Homo sapiens: one gene and its partner. The protein of the gene in region 1 purifies or fractionates together with the protein of each later gene. This does not show direct contact. Each region holds a gene or a part of one and is shown in the gene's direction. Other genes may lie near its edges.

Region 1 (5,160 bases):
TTAATCCAGAGATACTGCTTTGTCTTTCAAAAAGTACAGACCAGTTGTAGTAATGGGATTACTAACCCACAGTTGGGGTTTGTCTGATGCTTCCTCTGGATTAGAATCCCATCATGCACTTTGGAGCAGGAATATTACATAAGTGAAGTTTTGCACATTATAGTCAGGCAGCACATGATGTCATTTTGTGCCATTTTTGGTGGTGTTAACCTTGACCCCTTGGGTAAAGTGGTCTTCCAGCTTTTTCCAGTGTACATGGGGATTTAATAAGCATTGAAATCCCTTGCCATCTAATTTGGAAGGACCAGAGAGAGTGTCAGACCAGTGATTAAACTGCGATTTCCAGAGCTGCCAGGGAGGGTATGAGTGGTGGAGGAGGCGGTGAAGGGGCAGGAGGAGGAGTGAACAGGGTACCTGGCACTCCTTCCATCCAGAGCGCCTCTGCTTTGATGACTTCTGTGTTTTCTTTGGTAAAAGGGTTCCACTGCTGAAGAAACTATAAGCAAAAACTCTATTAAACTAGTCCAATTTCCTCACATTTCATATGAAATTCAGAGGGCCAGGGGACTTCTCCAGAGAGGCTCGGCTAGCTCGTGGTAGTCCCGGATAGAGTCCAGGGCTTGTGAGTTCCAGGCCATGGCTTTCCGTTGCTGCTTAACCTTCAGAGTCAAGGACTTCTTTGAGAATCTGAGGAAACATATTCAGTCCTTTTCTCTTGAAAAAAAAACTCAATGATAAATTTTGCATCCAATTTTAGAGAGTCCTCAGAAGTCCCTGAAGCTAATCCATGGACTCCTACTTGCCATAGTAATACTTCCGTTTGAATTTTGTCAGCTTTACCATTTGCCTTTTGTGGGTGGCTTTTGAAAAAGTATTGGTGGTTTAAAACAAGGGGTGGCCTGTTCGTTCTAAGCCGTTTCCCTTGTTGGCTTATGGCAGTTTGCCAGTGGGTAAGGGAACACATTGCTCAGTCTCATCCTGCCTGCATGTTGAAGACAGTCTCTCTTGGCAGGCTGCAAGATGAACAACGTTAATGTGGTATATACGCCGTGGTCTAACCTGAAGAAAACAGCTGACATGGATGTGGGGCAGATAGGCTTTCACAGGCAGAAGGATGTAAGTGTTTTGTGCCACTGAAGGAGGCGGAGCCCTGATACTGAATGGAGTATCCTATCTTTTCTGTCTGACACCATTGTTGTTGAGGGCTGAGCATGATATATGTTTTCTAAAGGGAATTAAACTGGGTTGCTAAACCCCTGGAAAGCCTCATCCCTCTTCTGGGAGAAAAAAAACAAAAAGATGCAATATCTTTTCTCCTATCTCCCTTAAAGGTAAAAATTGTGACAGTGGAGAAGAAAGTAAATGAGATCCTGAACCGATTAGAAAAGACCAAAGTCGAGCGGTTCCCAGACCTAGCAGCAGAGAAAGAATGCAGAGATCGTGAAGAGAGGAATGAGAAAAAAGCCCAAATTCAGGAAATGAAAAAGAGAGAAAAAGAAGAAATGAAGAAGAAGAGGGAAATGGATGAACTTAGGTATGTCGGAGCTGTGGCATTGAGACTGACCTCAAAGATTATTCCCTGATGATTTTAATCATGTATTAGCCATTAAGAACGATATATTGGTGGAAGGAGGGACATGTAACAAGCTCAGCTTAAGCTCAACCTTAAATCAGTTTTTTAAAAAAAGGCATTTATATTAATGTGTTGGTTAAAAGAATTGCTTGTTTATGGCAGCAGGATATGAAAGTGGATGAAATAAAATAACTAATTTTATTCATAGAGAAACCTTCATAGGTTATCCCTAGTTTGGTTTGGTTTGTAAAGTTCTTCTGGAAAGGAAAAGGTGCTGTGGGAGGTATTTACTATTGACTAGCTGTGCTATTTAAGTAAAGTTGTGTTGGCTCTAAAAACCAATGCTAGTAACTCTCAAAGCTGTTTTTAAAACTCTTTTTTACATTTTGAAAGTTTAAAGTAATGTAGTGAGGTCTGCTTCAAAGCACTACATTTTTAAACAGCTAAATAGTTCAAATACAATTTGGCTCCTGAAATTCTAGTGAAGAAGGCCATGAGAATAATGATTATGTTAGTTTTCTATTGCCATTGAAACAAATTGCCACAAATGTAGTAGCTTAAAACAACACACATTTATTGTCTGTAGATTAGAAGTCCAGCAAGATTCTCACTGGGCTAAAATCAAAGTGTCTGGAGGCACTAGGGGAGAATCTTCCCTTTCAGCTTTGAGAGGCACCCCCATTTCTTGGCTTGTGGCTCCTTCTCCAAGCTTTCCATGGTCACAGCCCCCTGTCTGACCACTGCCTTTTCTGCTTTTAAGGAACAGTGTGATTAGATTGAGTTAATCCAGATAATTCACAATAATCTCTCCATTTTAAGGTCCTAACTAATGACATCTGCAAAGTCTACTTTGCCATAGAAGATAACATATTTATAGGTTCTACAGACTAGAATGTGGATGTTCTGCCATACAGTGCTGTACCCGCAGAGCCCCTAGTTGTTCTAATTAAAGGAAATTAATCCTGCGAATTCTCATCACAGAACTCCTAGATTTTTCCATGTTTGTTTATTTGCAATACATATGCCAAAAAGAAAAAAGAGTTACTTATAACATATATTGCCTTTGGAAATGGTGTAGAATCAGAAACATGTTGCTTAGGCATGTCCTAACCCAGTTTCCTTGGAATGCCCTGGATTCTTAGAAAGATTGTTGGGTCAGAATGTAGGTATAATGAACACGTACTGTTATTTATTATTCGCATGCACGTGTTTCTGGTTGGGGTTCTGCTAAAACAGGCTTCACTTAAAATACAGTGTTCAAATGGAGAGCTTCAGAAATGTTACCCTGAGTTACAATCTGCTAATATGAGGCCAACTAACATATATGTTTAAGTATTTGGTATGGCCTAGAATTCTGAGTCTGCTTTGTGTTTGAAGTGAAAGAAACGGTATTAACTCCATCAGTGAGGTAAAATTTGTGAAATTCTGAGTGATGCAGGATTTAGAGCAGTTAATTCTTTTTTGTTTTGAGTTTGGAGTGGGGGGAAACTGAAAATATGCCTTTTAGTGCCCTTTACGGATCGAACATAATTTTGTTTAGGAACATGATGGAACATATATTAGGAACATAAGATCACCTAATTTACTTACAACATTGAATAAGGAAGACTAGCTAACCCTTCTGAACATTTTCCATCTGCCAAACACTGCATTGCAAAGTGCTTTACTGCATTCTGTCATTTAATTCCAACAATAGCCATAGTAGATTTTTATCTGCATCTTATAGAAGAGGAAACTGAGCCTGAGAAGCAATCAAGAAACTTGTTATAAGCTCATTTGGCTAGTTAGTCTCAGTCTGATTCTCAAACCTACACATATTACTTACTATACTCTTCTTCCCTTTGTTCAATTTATTCCATTTTAAAGTAATTTTTATTCAATATAAATCAATCAAGTAATTTATAGATGTCATAATTCAAATTAAGCTGCATGCTACTAAAATTAAGGACATTAGTATGATTTTTATGAGTTTCAAAAATTACAAGCATTTAAACAAAATTTGTCCACCAAAACACAGTTTCGTATCTTCTGGGCTTTTTTCCATAGTGTCATCAACATATAAAATACTCCTATTAACTGAAGGGAAAACTCAATCTTATTGAATAAGATTTTTCCTTCAAAAGTTTAATCAGTCCCACTTTCTAAGTTGTCACTGGTCATTTGTATTTTTTAATAATCTCCATGGATCTCAGAAAACCAAAAACAATTGCTATGTTTATTTCCGTTAACCGTGTGCCACACAGACAACTTTCTGTCACATGCTGCAGAAGACAGAAGAACGTGGCACAGGGCTGCAGTGCCGGGAATGGAACGCGGTGACATTGCAAGTCTTTGCTTGGCACATCCAGAGCTGCCGTTTGCTGTGTTCTGCAGCATCTGTGAAATTCCAGCAATAGGCTCTAAGCTTCTGACTTGTTTTGTAATGTGTTTTTATACATTTTGCAGTGCTAGCATTCACTTTAATTTCTGTCTTTGAATCTTCCACCCAAGATATAGAAATCTGTGTCTATTACCTGTTTTAATTTTGCATTCTTTTATTTGGCTTTTTGTGTTACTGTACCAAACATTTATTACATCAAAATTAAGTCAACCCATGTAGATGTCGAAACCAGAAGAAATAAGCAATAGTCAGGGAAACGTCATAAAGAGGATGGGTGAATAACAGATGAGAGGTTGAGGCAGTCAAAACAAAGGGTAAGGACTATGACTACCTGAGAGAGGGATATTTAAAAGTTGAGATGCGGCCAGGCAAAGTGATTCATGCCTGTAATCCCAGCACTTTGGGAGGCTGAGGCAGAAGGATTGCTTGAGCCCAGGAGTTTGAGATCAGCCTGGGCAACAAAATTAGGACTGTCTCTACAAAAAATCAAATAACTAGCCAGGCGTGGGTGGTACAAGCCTATAGTCGCAGCTACTCTGGAGGCTGAGGTGGGAGGATTGCTTGAGCCCTGTTGGCTGAGGCTGCAGTGAGCTCACTGCATTCCATCCTGTGTGACAGAGCTAGATTCTGCCTCAAAAAATAAAAATAAAAAGCTGTGATAGAGACTGGGAGATCAGAATTGGAACCCAAAGCTCAGGTAATTGGAATGAGAGAAGTACAAGACCCAGGTGAAATGGTAAGTCAGTAAATATATCATCAATTTGAACATTGACATGAACTTGATTTTCATGCAAAGATTACTTCAGCATGGAGGATAATGTGGAAAGATTGTAGCCTGTAACTGACAAAGCAGGAATCCAAACTCAAGTCTAATCCTGAAGCCAATAGTCTATCGTGCTTCCTTTGAGGCAAGGAATGAACAAACTGGCAAGGCCAGAGTCAAGGTCACACATAGGCAAGTGAAAGAATGAAAAATTAGGTACATTGTAGAGTGACTTAAAAGGTTTAGTCCAGAATTTCATGTTGTAAGTGATAAAGAGCCTTTATAGGTTTTGTGGAATATTGGGGAATAGACTTACAGGATGAATGAAGTAACATGTAGGAGAGGAAATGGTGAGACCAGTAACTAATTAAATGGATGACAGTCTCATGAAGAACCAACTTCTTTGTACCTTTTTTTGTTTATCTTATACACACTGCCACTGCC
Region 2 (3,500 bases), on another chromosome or scaffold:
AAAAGTCTTTAATACGGTATCATTTGGCAGAGATTCTTAAAAATCCCATTTCACAGTAAATTCCAGCAATCACAACACCCACTGTGTGTTCAGTTCTTCAGGGTGGATTCTTGTGGCTTTCAGATGTCTGCAGAACAAAAGCATTTTGGACACAGTAACTCCAAGTGTTCACATGGAATGAGGGAAGTGAAGGAACGCAGGTTCCGCGTCTTCGTTTTGACCATCCCGCACTCTCGTGTTTTATTTTGGGTCCTCTGTTTCGACACCGGGAGGTAGGAAATCATGGGCCCTGGAGGCCCCGACTGTGCCCAGAGCCAGCCCACAGGATCTGACTGTCAGAGCGATTCTCAGAAGGAATGTGGGTAGTAGATTTTGTGTCGGGTCATTGCTAACGTCCATGTAATGTTACTTTCAGGATAAGTAACAACGATATGCGAATTTGAAGCTTTTGTTTGTGTGATTAAAACGCAACCGTAGCCACAGCAATTTTTTAAACTTCAATCAACAACAGATTTTCGGAGGAGGAATATGTTATTGCTGACTTTGTTCAGAGATACCGGCACACGGTGGTAATAAGCAAACTGACTTCTAGTCGGTTATGATTCCTAAATTCGCCACAGATAGTGCACCCCCTACTGCCTGCACCTGGTACTGGCTGCTCCCACCCTCGCACGCACCCTCAATACCCACGGTCACCCTGGAAGCCGCTACATTCTGGCTGGTAGAGTCGTGGACCCTCTTCTCCTTGGATCAGATGCTTGTTTTTGATGTCGGCTTGTTGTGGACCAATGTGAGAAGATGAGCTTCCTGGGAATTCATTCGTTTGCTTGTGGCACTAACTCTAGTCACTTAGGGAAAATATCGTTGCACCTGACTTCATCTCATGTGGCTGTGGGTAGACCTGTGCAGTTAGTCAGCTCCCGGCCTGGAAATTAACACAAAGGAAAAACCTGACCACACAGGCCTTCCCTAGAGGCCACAGCTGCACAGCCTTCAGGGAAGCTGTGGTCTGAGGGTGGCTGGTAGAACTGCCAGAGAGTAGGGCATTTTCCATGGCTCCAGATCACCTTCTGAAAATGCGACTATAGCCCCTGCCTATTCCCGGGGTCCACCTGGTCTGCAGACCCCATAATACCAGGAAGAGCTGGGTGTTCTGGCACCAGTGAAACAATACCTGGTTTTTTATTTTAAACCAGCCCATCTTCCCCGCTGCAGTTGGAACCGTTCTACGTGGATTTGGGATCAACCAGCAGGCCTTTCCTGAGCTGTTACTGTGTGGAGTGGGCGCTGAGGCTCCAGCCATTGATGCAAAGACCCCAATCCTGACCTGAAGGCGCTCACAATCTCTCCCCAACGGCCTGGTGTGAAACGCAGACGCAACGCAGCAGGCATTCTCCCCAGTGGCTGCCTGTAGAGCAAATGGTGCAGAAATGGTCACTCCTCAAAAAGCAAGCCGGCTGGAGCCAGCCCAGCTCCCAGTTTTGCAAGAAAAAAAAAATCACAGCTCCATTTTCAAAGATTTCAAGGGCAGCTCAAGACCAGCCTGGACTAGCAGGCCTCAAATGCATTACTGGAGACCCCTTTACGCTCTTAACAAGTACCGACCCCAAAGAGGCTTTTTGTATAACAATGTCTATTGATATTTACTCTACTGGAAATTAAAAGTGAGAAATTTATAACATGTATAATTCATTAAAAATAACATATAAATCCATTGCATGTTATCATAAATAATTTTATGAAGATAAGCATCTTCCAAAATGAAAAAATAATTTACTGAGAGAGTAGCATTGTTGTACATTTTCACAAATCCTGTCAGTGTCTGGCTTAATAGAAGACAGCTAGGGACCTTGCGTCTGCTTCCGATGTAGTCTATGGAAATGTGTTGTTTCAGTTGAACTGTATCAAGAAAATCTGGCCTCACGCATTTTATAGTTGAAACAGGGAAAAGGATTTTAGTACCTTTTTCAGCTAACTAACTATGAACATTCTTTGCTACTACACCAAAACTCAACAAGTGGTAGCTTCTTAAAGGCTGGTTATAACATGGAATCTGAAGCCTCATGAATAGACTTTTGGGCTCTGTGGCAGTTAAATCCGCTGTTCTCTCTCACTTTGAACATGTGGTTTTTCATGGAAAAATGAATGTTCACTTGAAAAATGTTGGTTCACAGAGTTCTGCAGAAATTCAAATTTTTGACACATTACATTATATAGTATCAAAAAATCACTTAATATCACCATCCATCTCATCAGAAAACTCATTATGAGGAAGTTGTCATGGTGATAGGAGAAAGTTTTTCAAAATTCTGATTTTTGCTTAAAAGCTCAAATGTATACCATTGGCAATAAATAATGTCAGCTGTTTCTGGAAGTAAGAGGCTCAGTTTGTTCCTTTTCTGGGAAATATCTGCCAGATACCTAAATCCAATTAAATGCCATTTGTCTGTCAGTTTTTCTTTCAAGTAAAGATGGTGTCGTGGCCAGAGTGGCTCATGGAGCTCAGAACTCCCCCAGCAATCACAGCTGAGCTTCTGCTCTGACCGACCACTGCCCGTCAGCAACAGCAGGAGTACATTATGAGTCACACGGAATATGGAAAATGTATTGTACCCAAGGGTTGAGAGTTTTAAAAATTAATTTTACTGCTTCAGCAAGGAAATTCTAACGTGAAATTGGCATTGGTTCATTTTCCCAGAGGGCACGGAAACGAATACAGTGGCTCCCGGACCTCTTTGGGACTGTGGCCTGATACTCCAGCACAGGGGGTGTAAGTGTCAGCCCCGTGAAAAAGGCAGAGACCGTCTTAAATCACTGCGAAAATGGTTTCTTCTATAAAAACAGAAACAACATATGGGGGCTGGTGAAACTTTGCACAATCAATCAGTTGAGCTGTATTTGCAAGCCCAGTCCTGGCTCCACCTGCAATTGGGAAGGAGCTGGCAGCTGTGACGGGGGAGACATGGTGTACAGTGAGCAGCCGTTTCCAGGCATTGCTGTGTGACCCATTTTGCACATGGTTTGATTCCAGATCGGAGGCCCTGTTTTTCCATTTAAACAATCCTGTGCTTTCTCAAACAGATTAGCTCAGAAGAGATGGCTTATTTTCAGTAGTACAAGATGGGTCATTTTCACTCAATTATAAAAGCAGCTCAATTTACATCTAAAAATACTTTGCACTAAAATTCAAAGCTTGTGTAATAAGATAAGGGTTCAAAAATGATTCAGTAAATTTCATACCCAAACCTTTACCTCTGAGGACCTGCTGTTAATTTAAAATATGAACTTGTGAATTTGATTTGGGAACCTGTAAAATGTAAAAATGTGTAACACTGTCAACCAGCGTATAGGAAACAGTGTGGACACTGCAGGAGAAGGGTGGCCCCTCTTTAGACCCAGGTTAACCAGGAGGTGTGAACTATTAACCAGGAGGTGTGAACTAGCAGGAGGGCAGAGGTGGCCCCTTCTTCTGGCGATAGACCTGGCAGTGACATGAAGGA

Evidence for each region.
Region 2: the proteins of CCDC25 (region 1) and NPEPL1 fractionate together in Homo sapiens (co-fractionation; one large-scale study listed by BioGRID). This does not show direct contact.

Annotation. Positions count from the first base shown.
Region 1 is NC_000008.11:27,744,451-27,749,610, reverse strand, and holds part of CCDC25 (coiled-coil domain-containing protein 25), read left to right. Parts: intron 1-1,012; coding exon 1,013-1,116; intron 1,117-1,331; coding exon 1,332-1,534; intron 1,535-5,160.
Region 2 is NC_000020.11:58,702,800-58,706,299, forward strand, and holds part of NPEPL1 (probable aminopeptidase NPEPL1), read left to right. Parts: intron 1-2,698; exon of another isoform or gene 2,699-2,770; intron 2,771-3,500. UniProt on the Homo sapiens protein: Probably catalyzes the removal of unsubstituted N-terminal amino acids from various peptides.